Homo sapiens: one gene and its partners. The protein of the gene in region 4 purifies or fractionates together with the protein of the main gene of each other region. This does not show direct contact. Each region holds a gene or a part of one and is shown on either strand. Other genes may lie near its edges.

Region 1 (3,500 bases), on a different chromosome or scaffold from region 4:
TGTTGAAGCGCTGGTGCTCACACCCCCTACCTTCAGGGCTCTGCAAGCACAGTTCCAAGGTCTGCAGCGCGGGTACAGTGCATGCCCTGCTGAGTGTGCGTCAGAGCAGTTGTCTCCCTGTGACACTTATTCTAAGACCCTTTTTGCTACTCATAAGTGGTAGAGTACCACACTCACTCATGAACCAGTGATAATCCAGGGTACTAACGGGGGCCCCGGAGTTTATTTGGCACCGAAGATTAAGCTACTTGGCAGCTGAATTTTTATCTAGATTGGGGTTAGGTTTGTATTAAAATTTTGCATTCCAGCAAGCCCTAAACCGTGCTTGTTCATTGTGGGATAATGCGTTCAACTGATGAGTTGCCAGGCCAGGATTGATGGGGGATTATGTGTATTCTGCTAGTTTGTCAGCACCTGATGTCACTGTGCTGGGGGGTGGGGGAGGCATGTTTGGAGTTAGGATGAGCAGACACTTGTAGATTTTAATCACACTCTACTTTGGGGCTCCCTGCTCTCCTATGGTAGCAGGGGGTTTCTGTGTCGTTCTTATGTCCTCATGTAAAGCTGCACATCTGTGAATGTCAGGTAGCTCTTGTGCTTTTCCCCTTAGATTGAGTTTCTAATCTGGGAATGACAGAGGGTGGCTGTATATGGAGACAGCAGCATGGGCTTAGGGGCTCTTTTGGTGCCAGTTACCCTACGGAAAAAAGGTTTCTTCAAATCACTTTCTACAAAGACTAAAAAATGGTTGGAATCTAGTGGTGCAGATTGTAATATGACTTCAGGTAATCAATACGGTTTGACAGGTGGAACATTTCTTAGATGCTGATGAGCAGGGCGCAAGTCTCAAGATTTTTAAATCATCTGAAAAGCACAGTAAATCCTTTAAAGAGCCCTACCTTGGCCATGTTGTTTCAAGTAAAATTGAATTTCAGAGGCAAAGCTTCACATCGGAGGCATGACGAACTAAAGAAATCCTTCCCAGAGACCTCCACTCTCTTCCTGTTGCCACCCTCCTCTGCCAGCAGCAGGGCAGGAAAGATGACTTCTTGGGGCTGTGTGCCTTTACCTTAAGAAGCAAGTGCACCCTGAATGCTTCTAATCCCGCAGCTGGGTTGTCTGGGTATTTGGATCTTTTTGGTGCTTGAGGTACTACCCAAGTTGGCAGGAAGCCAGGAGCCTGGGGGTGGAGGTGTCTTAGCCCCACCTGTGGCATGAGACAAGAGGTCTTCTCCAGCAAGGGATGGGTCTCTGACCCTTGGCTAAGAAAACTCAGGATTGTTAAATACGTACTGCATGGATAAGGTTGCTGTGACCCTGAAAAAAGGAAGAAGGCTTTTGGGTGGTGCGTGGTTCTCCTCTTGGAAGTCTTCCCAGATTTCGCCTCAGTACTCTCTTGCCCTAGCTTAAATCTTTCCTTGCTCTGTGTCCCCTTAGGCAAGTGAGGTCTCCTCTCAGGTAGGCATGATATTAAGTGCATGTCTAGAGGACAGTTCCTTCTACCTGCCCAGGTGCACTGGCTGAACTCACCTATGCCCACATCTGTGCATTGGCAGGTGATATAGATATACACCTGAGCTGTCCCCCTGAGCTGCAGACCTAACACTAGGTGTGGGCTCCGAGCTGTTCCACATCAAAACAGAGCCGAGGACACATCTCCCTCACTGAAGCTGTGTCTCCTACCTATTATGGTCAACACGTCTCATCTACTCATTTGTTAAAGCTAGAAATCTCTGGAGAGTTTTGGAGCTCTTTCTCTGTCTTCACTTGAAATCTCTGGAGAGTTTTGGAGCTCTTTGTCTGTCTTCACTTTGCCATCTAATTGGGTCAGCCCTCTCTGAGGGCTCACACCCACTCTTCCGGCACAGCGGAGCCTTATCTGCCCTTGGCCCAGAGAATGCTTCCAGTTCCTTCACTCCAGCCACACCGGCAGCACTTCCCAGTTTAAAACGCAGATTTCATCATCCCACTGTCTTCTGCCTCCCCAACCCCACCAAACCTTGGTTTGTTCTCTTAACGCAGTAAGTGCTTCTGATACCTACTGTGTGCCTTGGACCAAGCTGGAGTCTGAGAAGGTTGGGCCCAGGCATCCTCCCTACCTGTGCAGAGTTTAAGGTCTTGGGCTGGGGGTTGTATGTGGGGTACCTATCAAATAAGACCAGGGAGCGTGAAGTGCTATGGAGGGGAGCTCCTACCCCAGTATAGGGGGCTCCCTGGAGAAGCACCCTCTAAGCTGATACCTGGGAGAGTTGGGGGTGCAGGGGAGGGGTTGGAGTTGGGGCTGGATTGTTCGATGCCTTTCTTCTGTCTCACCCAGACTTCCTTATCTGCTAAACTCCTACTCATTTTTGTTTTAATTAATACCAAGATAGAATTTATCTCTCATAAAGCATGCCCATTCTAAGTGTACAGTTTAATGATTTTCAGTAAATTAATAGAGTTCATAGCCATTACCACAATCCAGTTTTGGAACATATCCATCACCCCAGAAAGATCCCTCTTTTGTACAAACTCCCTGTCCCCGTCCTCAAGCCGCCAGTCCCCCACAGATTTGCTTTCTGTCTCTAGATTTGCCTTTTCTTTCTATGTTTCTTAGTGTGTTTTCATAGGTTCGGCCCAAGAGCTGTTTCATTTGGGCCTTCCTAGAGTCTTCTAGTTAGAATCAATTTATCCCCCAGCACCGACGAAGTGAGCTGGGTGCTTGGCCATCCCGCTGCTAGATGGCGAGCTCTCTTACCTGCCTCTCCTGCCTGCACCTGGCTCAGCACTGGCACCTACAGAATACCCAAGGTGTGTTGGCTGGACCAGCTGAAGTTGTGTTCCTCACATTTCTTTTGTATAACTCCTGAGTATCTAGCAGAGTGTGGGGATTTAAAATACAGCGCATGTATTGATGTGTCAGGTGATGTGAGCCCTGCTACATACATACCTTAACTTGTTTCATCAAGAACTTGTGAGGCAAATGGCAAATCAAAAACAAAAACAAACAAAACAAAACAAAACAAATCTATTTTCTAAGCCAGGCACAGTGGCTCTTGTCTGTAGTTCCAGCTACTAGGGGGTGCTGAGGTGGGAGGATTGCTTGAAATCAGGGATTTGAGCCTGGGCAATATTGTGAGACCCTGCTTCTTAACAAACTTTTTTTTTTTGAGATAGGGTCTTGCTCTGTTGCCCAGGCTGGAGTGCAGTGATGTGATCCCAGCTCACTGCAGCCTTGAACTCCTGGGCCCAAGCAATCCCCCTGCCATAGTCTCCTGAGTAGCTAGGACTACAGGTACACACCACCATGCCTGCTGATTTTTAAATTTTTTGTGGAGACGAGGTCTTGCTATGTTGCCCAGACTGGTCTTGAGCTCCCGGGCTCAAATAATCCTCCAGCCTTGGCCTCTCAAAGTGCTGGAATTATAAGTGTGAACTACTGTGCCTCAGCCCAAGCCATTTTTCTAAATGAAAAAACTGAGGAGGCCCAGAGCAAATAAGTAGCCCAAGGGCATCAGCAG
Region 2 (3,014 bases), on a different chromosome or scaffold from region 4:
TTTGGTTACAGAAGTGAAGGCTGCTCCCTCACAGACTTCCTAGTGTCCGATGGTACCACATGGAAGGATCAGAGTTTTGAAGGACTGGGCCAGAACCCAGATAGGGCACAAGGCTGCCAGCGCCTGCATTGAGGGAGCTATGATGTGACGGGGGCTCCTGCAGAAGATGGCCTTCCTTGTACAGGTGTGGGGCAGCCTGTGGATGGGCAGTGGGAAGATGGGGGGTCCTCGGAGCTGGAGGTGCCCAGCGGTTTAGGAGGCTGTGCTTGGCACATCTGTAGCCCCAAAGCTATATGTTGAGATCACTGGCACCCAGAGGAGAGACCCAAAAGGGGCAAGAGAACATCTTCCAAGCACTTGCCACTGGCAAGGAGGGTGCTGCCGGCTATTTCCGTGGGAGGTGGGTGAAGACATTTAACCTGGGCTTCCCCAGCAGAAGGAGGTGCCATTGCAGGGACCAGTCTTGGGCTGAGACCCTAGCAAAGGCTTCCTCTGGCAGGGCTGCAGGTCTAGGGTCTGTCTCTGCCTGCTGCGGGCCTGATTAACGCCAGTACTTTCCTTTCCCCAGAGTCGGATGGCAGAGAGCTTGCGCCTCTTTGACTCCATCTGCAACAACAACTGGTTCATCAACACCTCACTCATCCTCTTCCTGAACAAGAAGGACCTGCTGGCAGAGAAGATCCGCCGCATCCCGCTCACCATCTGCTTTCCCGAGTACAAGGGCCAGAACACGTACGAGGAGGCCGCTGTCTACATCCAGCGGCAGTTTGAAGACCTGAACCGCAACAAGGAGACCAAGGAGATCTACTCCCACTTCACCTGCGCCACCGACACCAGTAACATCCAGTTTGTCTTCGACGCGGTGACAGACGTCATCATACAGAACAATCTCAAGTACATTGGCCTTTGCTGAGGAGCTGGGCCCGGGGCCCGCCTGCCTATGGTGAAACCCACGGGGTGTCATGCCCCAACGCGTGCTAGAGAGGCCCAATCCAGGGGCAGAAAACAGGGGGCCTAAAGAATGTCCCCCACCCCTTGGCCTCTGCCTCCTTGGCCCCACATTTCTGCAAACATAAATATTTACGGATAGATTGCTAGGTAGATAGACACACACACATGCACACACACACATCTGGAGATGGCAAAATCCTCTAAAATGTCGAGGTCTCTTGAAGACTTGAGAAGCTGTCACAAGGTCACTACAAGCCCAACCTGCCCCTTCACTTTGCCTTCCTGAGTTGGCCCCACTCCACTTGGGGGTCTGCATTGGATTGTTAGGGATAGGCAGCAGGGCTGAGGCAAGGTAGGCCAACTGCACCCCTGTCGCCTGGAGGAGGGCCAGCTCGCTGCCCGAGCTCTGGCCTAGGGACCTTGCCGCTGACCAAGAGGGAGGACCAGTGCAGGGTCTGTGCACCTTCCCTGCTGGCCTGCACACAGCTGCTCAGCACCACTTTCATTCTGGACCTGGGACCTTAGGAGCCGGGTGACAGCACTAACCAGACCTCCAGCCACTCACAGCTCTTTTTAAAAAACAGCTTCAAAATATGCAGCAAAAACCAATACAACAAAACGAGTGGCACGATTTATTTCAAACTAGGCCAGCTGGGATTCCAGCTTTTCTTCTACTAGTCTGATGTTTTATAAATCAAAACCTGGTTTTCCTTCTCTGACATTTTTTTTTTGTTTTGTTTTTTGGTTTTTTTTTTTTTTTGGCCAAATCTCGTGGTGTTTCGCAGAAAAAAATCCAGAAAATTTCAAATGCAGTTGAGTATTCTTTTTTAAATGCAGATTTTCAAAACATATTTTTTTTCAGGTGGTCTTTTTTGTGTCTGGCTTGCTGAGTGTAAAAGTTGTTATCTGGACGATCTGTCTCTCTGCTCCAAAGAAATTTTGGAGTGAGTGGCAGTCCTGCGCCAGCCTCGCGGGACACGTGTTGTACATAAGCCTCTGCAGTGTCCTCTTGTTAATGGTGGGGTTTTCTGCTTTGTTTTTATTTAAGAAAATAAACACGACATATTTAAAGAAGGTTCTTTCACCTGGGAGCAAATGAACAATAGCTAAGTGTCTTGGTATTTAAAGAGTAAATTATTTGTGGCTTTGCTGAGTGAAGGAAGGGGAGCAAGGGGTGGTGCCCCTGGTCCCAGCATGCCCCGCGCCTGAGACTGGCTGGAAATGCTCTGACTCCTGTGAAGGCACAGCCAGCGTTGTGGCCTGAGGGAGGCCCTGCTGGGACCCTGATCTGGGCCTTCCTGTCCCAGGGCCTATGGGCAACTGCGTTGAAAGGACGTTCGCCAAGGGCCGTGTGTAAATACGAACTGCGCCATGGAGAGGAGAGGCACTGCCGGAGCCCTTGCCAGATCTCCCTCCCTCTCTCCGTGCAGTAGCTGTGTGTCCGAGGTCAGTGTGCGGAATCACAGCCAAGGACGTGAAGAGATGTACGGGGGAAAGAGAAGCTGGGGATTGGATGAAAGTCAAAGGTTGTCTACTTTAAGAAAATAAAATACCCTGAATGGAGCCCAGCATTGTCCCAGTGTGCTATGTGTGTAGCTGACCTGTGGCTGGACTTGGTGCCATCTGGAAGGGCAGCCGGGGACACCTCCATTCTGAGGTCCCATATTCCAAACCCCACCCCTATACCTCCACACATTTAGGTAGAGTCATTTTGCAATGAACATCACAAATAAACATCACGAGAGGAAAGAAACTGCAAAGAGGGGAAACCTGCCAGGTCCATGCAGTCCTGGTGTGGAGGTCTGGGGGTGATGATGACTCCTGCCCCTCCCGCTGCCCCCAAGACCCCACCCAACACTGACCCAGGCTGTGCCATACCCTGGACCCCTCCCACCATGTGGACACCTCAGCCAATGTCAGAGTCATCCTGCAGAGTGGAAGAGGTGCCCTGAGGGCCTGGAGGGTTCCTGTGCCCCCAGTAGTGTAGGGCAAACCTTGTAGGGTTTTGGAGAGGAGGGGTCCCTGAGCATGCAGTGCTCGCTGACTGGCTTGTGTGGTTAGAG
Region 3 (4,155 bases), on a different chromosome or scaffold from region 4:
TTTATAATAAAACTGGTCATTCTATTTTATATTCTTCACATAGATTGTGAATAGCTACACTCAAATTACTTAGGTTTCTGCATTAACTGTATTTGCTGGTATAATTTTAAGAAGAAGAAAATACTTGTAAAAATAATGTCACTCACTTGACATAGAAAATTGACCACAGGCCGGGCGCGGTGGCTCACGCCTGTAATCCCAGCACTTTGGGAGGCCGAAGCGGACGGATCACGAGGTCAGGAGATCGAGACCATCCTGGCTAACATGGTGAAACCCCGTCTCTACTAAAAAATACAAAAAATTAGCCGGGCGTGGTAGCAGGCGCCTGTAGTCCCAGCTACTCGGGTGGCCGAGGCAGGAGAATGGCGTGACCCCGGGAGGCGGAGCTTGCAGTGAGCCAAGATCGCGCCACTGCACTCCAGCCTGGGCGACAGAGCGAGACTCCGTCTCAAAAAAAAAACAAAACAAAACAAAAAAAAAAGAAAATTGACCACAAAGAATGAGTTCAATAATGTTCTGAATTTAATAAAGGATTGATTAAATTCTGCTCAGTAGTTACAAGTAACTGAACATTTTTTTCTCAATGGAAGAATAAATTCAGAATATATCAGTTTTTAAAAAACGAATGAGAATATGAATAGCAACTAAAACGATTAATAGGTGCATTCAATGAGAACTTTTTATTTCAATTATCCACAAAACAATATTACAATACTTTATAAAAATATTAAGTTTAGGCTACCATTATTCATTTAAAAAAGTGTGCTAGAAGGCTGTTTTTGCCAACTTCCTTTTTTGGTAAGGGTTAACTTCCACATTAAGACACTGAAGACGAAAAGCTGTTGGAAAATATCTCCAAATTTACAAAGTTGTTTTTCTTGGCAATTTAAAAATACAGAACAATTTAAAATGAATACACATTAAGTTAGTGTTTTATCCCTACTATACAATTGTTATTATATAAGGAACTGCTCCATTCAGTTAAAACCTAATGAATACCATCAACTTTTCCTGCCTTACTTTCCTGATTAGATTTAGTACATAAACGTAATTTTGTCACCCTTTTGAATATGCTTAGAAAAATTACAATATCATAGTTCACATAAAGCCCTTAAAAAATCTCATGTCACAAGTTGTTGATAAGAGGAAATAATGACAGCACTCTTCTTAGGAAGACCCTCTTGGTAGAGAGTGTCAATACTAAGCAGGTTACGTAAACAGAAAAAACAACCACAATTTTTAGTACCAGAACCACTGCCAACTTGCATGAAGTCCATCTTCACATTTTAAAAATGGTTTGAATTTGAACATATATGCCATGGCACAGAATTTCGAATCTGATGATTAAAATCAGGTAAATAATGATAGTTAAGAATTATATCCTGAAAATAGAGGGGCCTAATATAAGGCTTAATTTAAAGTGTGACTATATGAGAGTATTTTAAAACATATACACCAGACCTTCATTTTATTCATCAATTTTTCCTTTGCTAGACACTCAAACCACTAATGCTGCTATTCAAATCTGTATTTTGAAATTACTGAGTTACTCTTAAAAATTAGTCTTATTTTGTATGTTTCACTTTTGCACTTTAGGGTAAAAACTGTCCCCTTTTCACCACCGTTAATATTCAGAATAAGTTTTCCTCCCCAAATCAACCATTTAATGTATTCTAAAAGGGAAAAAATGACCACCATTACATAGACTTTAGAAGTGAATGTAGGCTGGGCGCGGTGGCTCACGCCTGTAATCCCAGCACTTTGGGAGGCCGAGGCGGGCAGATCACAAGGTCAGGAGATCGAGACTATCCTGGCTAACACGGTGAAACTGCGTCTCTACTAAAAATACAAAAAACTAGCCAGGCGTGGTGGTGGGCACCTGTAGTCCCAGCTACTCGGGAGGCTGAGGCAGGAGAATGGTGTGAACCTGGGAGGCAGAGCTTGCAGTGAGCCGAGATCGCGCCACTGCACTCCAGCCTGGGCGACAGAGCGAGACTCCGTCTCAAAAAAGAAAACAAAAAAAAGTGAATGTAGATTCAAACATGATTTGAAAACTGGAGTTCTAAAAATGTTTTACATAAAAACCATATCCCACTGCAATGAATGTGAAGCCATAACTTCATTATTTTGAACAAATACCCATTTAGTGTGTAAGAAAAATTAGTTTTATAGTTATACTTTATAACTCTTCAAAGTCTCAGAATATAGCTAAGTGAGGAGCTCTGAGTGCCAGCAAAGCCATTCTGTCACTCCATGACATCAACATTAAACATTACCTTCCATCCCTCTAACTTGTAAAACTTTCACTTTCTTTTCTCGTATTTCTTTTAAATACATTTTCCTCTCTGTTCATCTATATTCACCATGAGCAAAAGTGCATTCAAGTCCCTGATCTGGTCATATTTTCTATTTGTGGCACCCATCCCCATAAGGACATATAAGCAATACTCACAGTACGAAGTCTAGTTTTTAAAAAGGGCTTTTAAAATGCTGGGTCTTACTTTGCATGCTATCTAAAGATCAAAACATTTCCCCTTTGATTGGACAGTAGTTTCAATTATATATTGCCTTAAAAAATCAATGCAACCTCATACAAGATTAACTCACTTTCTAGTTACCTTCATTATTCTAAGTCAAACTCTTCAGAAAAGGACTGAAGTGAAAAAGTTCTTATTCTTTCAGTTCCATGAACATGAATATTAATGTACTGCATTATACTTTCAAATTCCACTTCTGTGGTCTAACATTTAATCAAGTTTGAGATCCTGTTTATATTCCTTTTGAAAAACCTGGCCCATGTCCATGCAAAAGAAAGCATATATTAAGATTGCATACTGACTGTTTAACTTAGAAAAAACTTTTGAGAATAATAAATGCAAGAAACTTTAAAAAACTGGAATGGAATTATTTGGTCCCATGATATTCCTTAATTTTAGATTTTATTATGGTATAGCTTTTTATCTCTCAAGTTTTATCTGTAACAATAAATAATTTTCTTTGAGCAATTCTGACTTTGGGGAAAAAAAGAAAGGAAATGATTTATAAATAAGCAGGAGCCTCACTGTCCTTCATTACCATGCTGTCACCCACACTGTCATCAGTATCTTAGCTCTATTTTGTTTGGACCCTGAAATACGCTGATAAATTCATCATTGGTACATTAGAGTTTAATACTTGGGGAAAAAAAAGTGGTTTTGTGCAACCATATCTGGGATTCCAGTTTACCATTAAAAACATGCAGAGTAAAGAAGATTTTCTTCTTTTGATTCCTGTAGAAAATCTACACAAGTTCTTTATATTTTGGCAGATTTGTGCATATAAAATAGGCTACTTGAATTATAAATTTTCTCCTGGCTGGTACTGTGGCTCTGTAGCAGTGAAGTAGTCTTCCAAGAAGGACTGAATATATTCAAATGTTGGTCTTTCATCAGGGTCCTTCTTCCAACACAGATTCATCAATTCATGGAGGGATTCTGGACAGCCCTGAGGGCACGGCATCCTGTATCCTCGCTCCACTTGTTCTAATACTTCACGGTTCACCATACCTAATACACAAGATTAAAACATTAAAGAACAATGGTCCTAACTACCACTAGGAAAACATAACAAACCCCCTAGCCACTAACTCATTCAAAGTATATTATTTAGTGAAACAATTCTTTTAACAAAGCAACAAAATAAATTTTAAACATGAGAATATCAAGAAGAGCTTAGAAAATGCTAATCTATGTTTTAACATGTCTAATTTTTCATTCCATCTTATATCTTATTTTTAATACTAATGTCTTCAAAAGCCAACCCCATTTGATTAATAAGAATTTAGGGTGCTACTATGAGGTACTGGTACTTTCTAATATTAACATTTAACAATGACCAAACTTGGGTTACTGAGGAATGGTGGCAAGATCCTGTCTGAAAGAACTTTAAAACAGGAATTCAGAAGAAAGTTCTAGTCTTGGTTTTGCCAAATATACCAACTACATAACTTTATATTGAATTACTTCTGTGAAAGTTTCCTTATCTAATATTACCTGTTTGACTTTCTTCAAGATATTACACATAGTTCCTTTCTTGTATTCCTTTGTAATCCCCCCTTCCTCAACCCCCTGATCAGCAGTTCACCCCATCTTATCACAGGACAGCAAAATGCCTCCT
Region 4 (3,500 bases):
CTATCTCAAAAAAAAAAAAAAAAAAAAGGTACTTGCAATAAAGCAAGACATAAGAAATACTTTTAGTTTATGGTTTAGCAAAGAACACAAATTCTTTTTATACACTCAGCTTTGTAAGTAGTATAGAAAAAATAAAAACTAGAAAGATGTATACTAAAGATATGTAAACAGTAATTGCCTCTGATTACTGGCAAGTTATGTAGTTTTAAAATATTTTTGTACTCTCCAAATCTTCTATAATGTGCATGGATTGTGTTTATAATAAGAACAAAATTGAAATGCTACATGAGTGGCTGAGCTGCTTGAGGGCAAGGCTATGCAGAAGGGGTGTAGGACCTTCCTCTGTAGGTTTATAGGCCATCTCAGGTGTTCTGCTTGCTGTAAAGTCTCATATTATTTTCCAGTGACAGCAACTCGACTCCTTTTGAGGTGCCAAGCCTTAATTAGAATTCTAAGCCTTCTTGAAAACCCATATGAGGGCTGGGTGCAGTGGCTCACGTCTGTAATCCCAGCATTTTGGGAGGCTGAGGGAGGTGGCTCACTTAAGGTCAAGAGTTCGAGACCAGCCTGGCCAAAATGGTGAAACACCGTCTCTACTAAAAATACAAAAAATTAGCTGGGCACGGTGCCTCACACCTGTGATCCCAGCTACTCAGGAGACTGAGGCAGGAAAATAGTTTGAACCCAGGAGCAGAGGTTGCAGTGAGCCAAGATCCTGCCACTGCACTCCAGCCTGGGTGACAGAGCAAGACTCCGTCTCAAAAAAAAGAAAAAAGAAAAGAAAAAAAGATCTAATGAAAGTCCTGGACCCCTCTGCACAGAAGAGCTATGCCCTCACACAGTTTCCCATGCCATTTCAGGGGTCCCCGCTCTTTCTCCCTCCCTAGGTAGGGAACTCAGTTCTAGAGCAGGGGCCAGCATCATTCTCTCTGTCTAGCCTGTCTGGTTCTGGCACCTCAGTGCAATACATTCCTGCCTTAAGGGGCTGTTCTGATGCACCTTCCTGCAGGAGGCCTTTCCCATCCCAGCCATGATGAGCTGGAGTACAAACAACATTGGCCTTGGCCAGGATACTCAGGTTTGACTTCCAGCTTTGAGACACACTGCCCTGGGACTCGATGCAACAAACAAAGCTCCTCTAAGATGCAGCTTCGGCCACAAAAAGAGAATATCAGCCTCTTTTTGTGCTAGGGTTAAGGATGATTAAGAATATAATTTTCTTTTTGAGACAGTCTCGCTCTGTTGTCCAAGCTAGAGTACAGCGGCACAATCACGGCTCACTGCAACCTCCACCTCCTGGTTCAAGCGATCCTCCCACCTCAGCCTCCCAAGTAGCTAGGATTACAGGCATGCACCACCACGCCTGGCTAATTTTTTTGTATTTTTAATAAAGATAGGGTTTTGCCATGTTGGCCAAGCTGGTCTTGAACTCCTGAACTCAAGTGACCTGCCTACCTCTGCTTCCCAAAGTGCTGGGATTACAGGCGTGAGCCACGATGCCCGGCCAAGAATGTAAAATATTCTTGATTTGATCCTATGGAGTCTGCCCTCCCAGAGTTCATCTCACAGCTCATACTAATTAACAAACCTACTTACTGAACACCTCCGACAGGCCAGGCCTTTGCCAGGCAGATGGGCATGCACAAGGCAGCGTGCTTGAAGGCGCTCATAGCCTGGTGGGAGATGAACAGGGCAACGGTGACCACAGGGGACTTGCTGCAAATAAGGTGCAGCAGTTGCTCTGGGAACACAGGAGGTAGCACAGACGGGAAGGTACGGAACGGAAAAAGCCATCCCTGAGATGAGATGGGATCGGGTCTGCGATTGTTGGCTGCAGAGGGGCAGGGAAAGCTGCTCCCAGCGGTGTGGACAGAACTTACTAGAGCTCAACATAAAGGCTATGTGGGGTTGCATAAATACTCACAAATCAATAAATAAACAATCAATCAATAATCACCTTGGCAGCACCCACGGGGCCTCACGGACTGCTGGTGGGTGGCGTGAGCCTGGTCTGAGTCTATTAAGTACATCCTTGTTGGATGGTTAACGAGCGAGCAGACTTTAGGGGGATCAGAAAGTTATCATAGGTGAGATGCAGCTTTAAATATAGAGCCATGGACATTGAATTCCAAAGCATTCTTGTTACCAGTGGAGGGTGCCCAAGTTCTTGGCATTTTGAACAAAAAATTGGACAAAATGCACAAACAAAGCAAGGAAACAATGAAGCAACAAAAGCCGAGATTTACTGAAAGCGAAAGTACATTCCACAGGGTGGGAGCAGGCCGAGCACAGGGACTCAAGATCCCTGTTACAGAATTTTCTGTGCTTAAACGCCCTCCAGAGGCTTCCCATTGGTTACTTGGTGTGCATCCTATGTAAATGAAGTAGCGGCCTGCAATCAGAGGCTGAAGTTACAAAGTTACACTTCTATGCAAATAAAGACTTGGCTCACGATCAGTCTGACTGGTTGGGGAAAGCAACCAATCAGAGGCTGAAATGAAGTTACAAAGGTACATTCCTGTGCAAATGTCTGATTGGTTGCAGAAAGCAACCAGTCAGAGATACTTTCAATTTTCCATCTGCCACACAGAAAGTGGGGAGGAGGTTGCAAAGGGAGTAGCCTCCGGTCCTTTTATTACATAGGTGTGGAAAGTTGGGGTTTTGATTTAGTTCTACAAAGTCAGTGTGAATCGGCCTTAGGTTCCCTGCCTCCAGACCCTATTCTCCTGCCTCATCCTGAGAGAAAGGCATCACAGTTTTGCAGTATCCTGTTGCAGAGCTGGGCTTGCTGCCTTTGGCAGGAACTGCAGCCAATGCTGAGCTGATTTCTCCTGAGCGAGGGGTCCTCGGCATCCTGGTTGAATGTTTTGTGCATTATCTCCCGGTCACCCGAGCTTGGGATTCTGCAAGACAAACTGCCTTAAGGCTACTACAGCCCCTCCCTGGACTCTCTCCTGTTCAACTTTTGACACTAGGCTCCCTCACCCCACCTTTGGCGTAGAAGTTACGCCAGCATCACTCACACTGGGTACATCCTGGGTGCATCCTTCCGTGCTGACTAGGCGGGCTGCTGTGTAAATTACCTTTCACATTTCAGCCCCGCTGAAGACAGCCTCCGAGGGTGGCTCTCACCTCACCTGACTTTACTTTCTGCAATGAACATGGTCATCCCACATAGGGGGTTGGCAAGGTCTTCTTGAGCAATTCTTTCCCATTGAGCAACCCAATTAAGAAGATAAAAAATTCTCACACTCAAGGAACTGCAGGGTTCTTAGGTCACACAAATGTGGGCTGGGGGAAGAGGTTAGTCTTTTTTTGCCAGTTGTTAAAATCATCAGTACCCTAGACTTGAAAAGATACATATTCTAGAGGAAGAAGTCTGTTTTTTAGCTTCATCATCTAGGAAAGAAATTTGTCCATTTAGGATAAACATCAGCTCTCCTAAATGCTTTGGTGAGGATGGAAACATATTGTAATTTTCAGATAAAATCAGGAGGCTA

What was found. The genes of interacting proteins can lie anywhere in the genome.
Region 1: the proteins of ACBD7 (region 4) and HPCAL1 purify together in Homo sapiens (affinity purification with mass spectrometry; 2 studies listed by BioGRID and IntAct, with this or other methods). This does not show direct contact.
Region 2: the proteins of ACBD7 (region 4) and GNAZ purify together in Homo sapiens (affinity purification with mass spectrometry; 2 studies listed by BioGRID and IntAct, with this or other methods). This does not show direct contact.
Region 3: the proteins of ACBD7 (region 4) and YES1 purify together in Homo sapiens (affinity purification with mass spectrometry; one large-scale study listed by BioGRID and IntAct). This does not show direct contact.

Annotation. Positions count from the first base shown.
Region 1 is NC_000002.12:10,305,904-10,309,403, forward strand, and holds part of HPCAL1 (hippocalcin-like protein 1), read left to right. Parts: intron 1-3,500. UniProt on the Homo sapiens protein: May be involved in the calcium-dependent regulation of rhodopsin phosphorylation.
Region 2 is NC_000022.11:23,122,519-23,125,532, forward strand, and holds the end of GNAZ (guanine nucleotide-binding protein G(z) subunit alpha), read left to right. Parts: coding exon of another isoform or gene 1-132; exon of another isoform or gene 133-184; intron 185-568; coding exon 569-913; 3' UTR 914-2,514; downstream 2,515-3,014. UniProt on the Homo sapiens protein: Guanine nucleotide-binding proteins (G proteins) are involved as modulators or transducers in various transmembrane signaling systems.
Region 3 is NC_000018.10:721,088-725,242, forward strand, and holds the end of YES1 (tyrosine-protein kinase Yes), read right to left. Parts: intron 3,546-4,155; coding exon 3,337-3,545; 3' UTR 501-3,336; downstream 1-500. UniProt on the Homo sapiens protein: Non-receptor protein tyrosine kinase that is involved in the regulation of cell growth and survival, apoptosis, cell-cell adhesion, cytoskeleton remodeling, and differentiation.
Region 4 is NC_000010.11:15,082,277-15,085,776, forward strand, and holds part of ACBD7 (acyl-CoA-binding domain-containing protein 7), read right to left. Parts: intron 1-3,500. UniProt on the Homo sapiens protein: Binds medium- and long-chain acyl-CoA esters.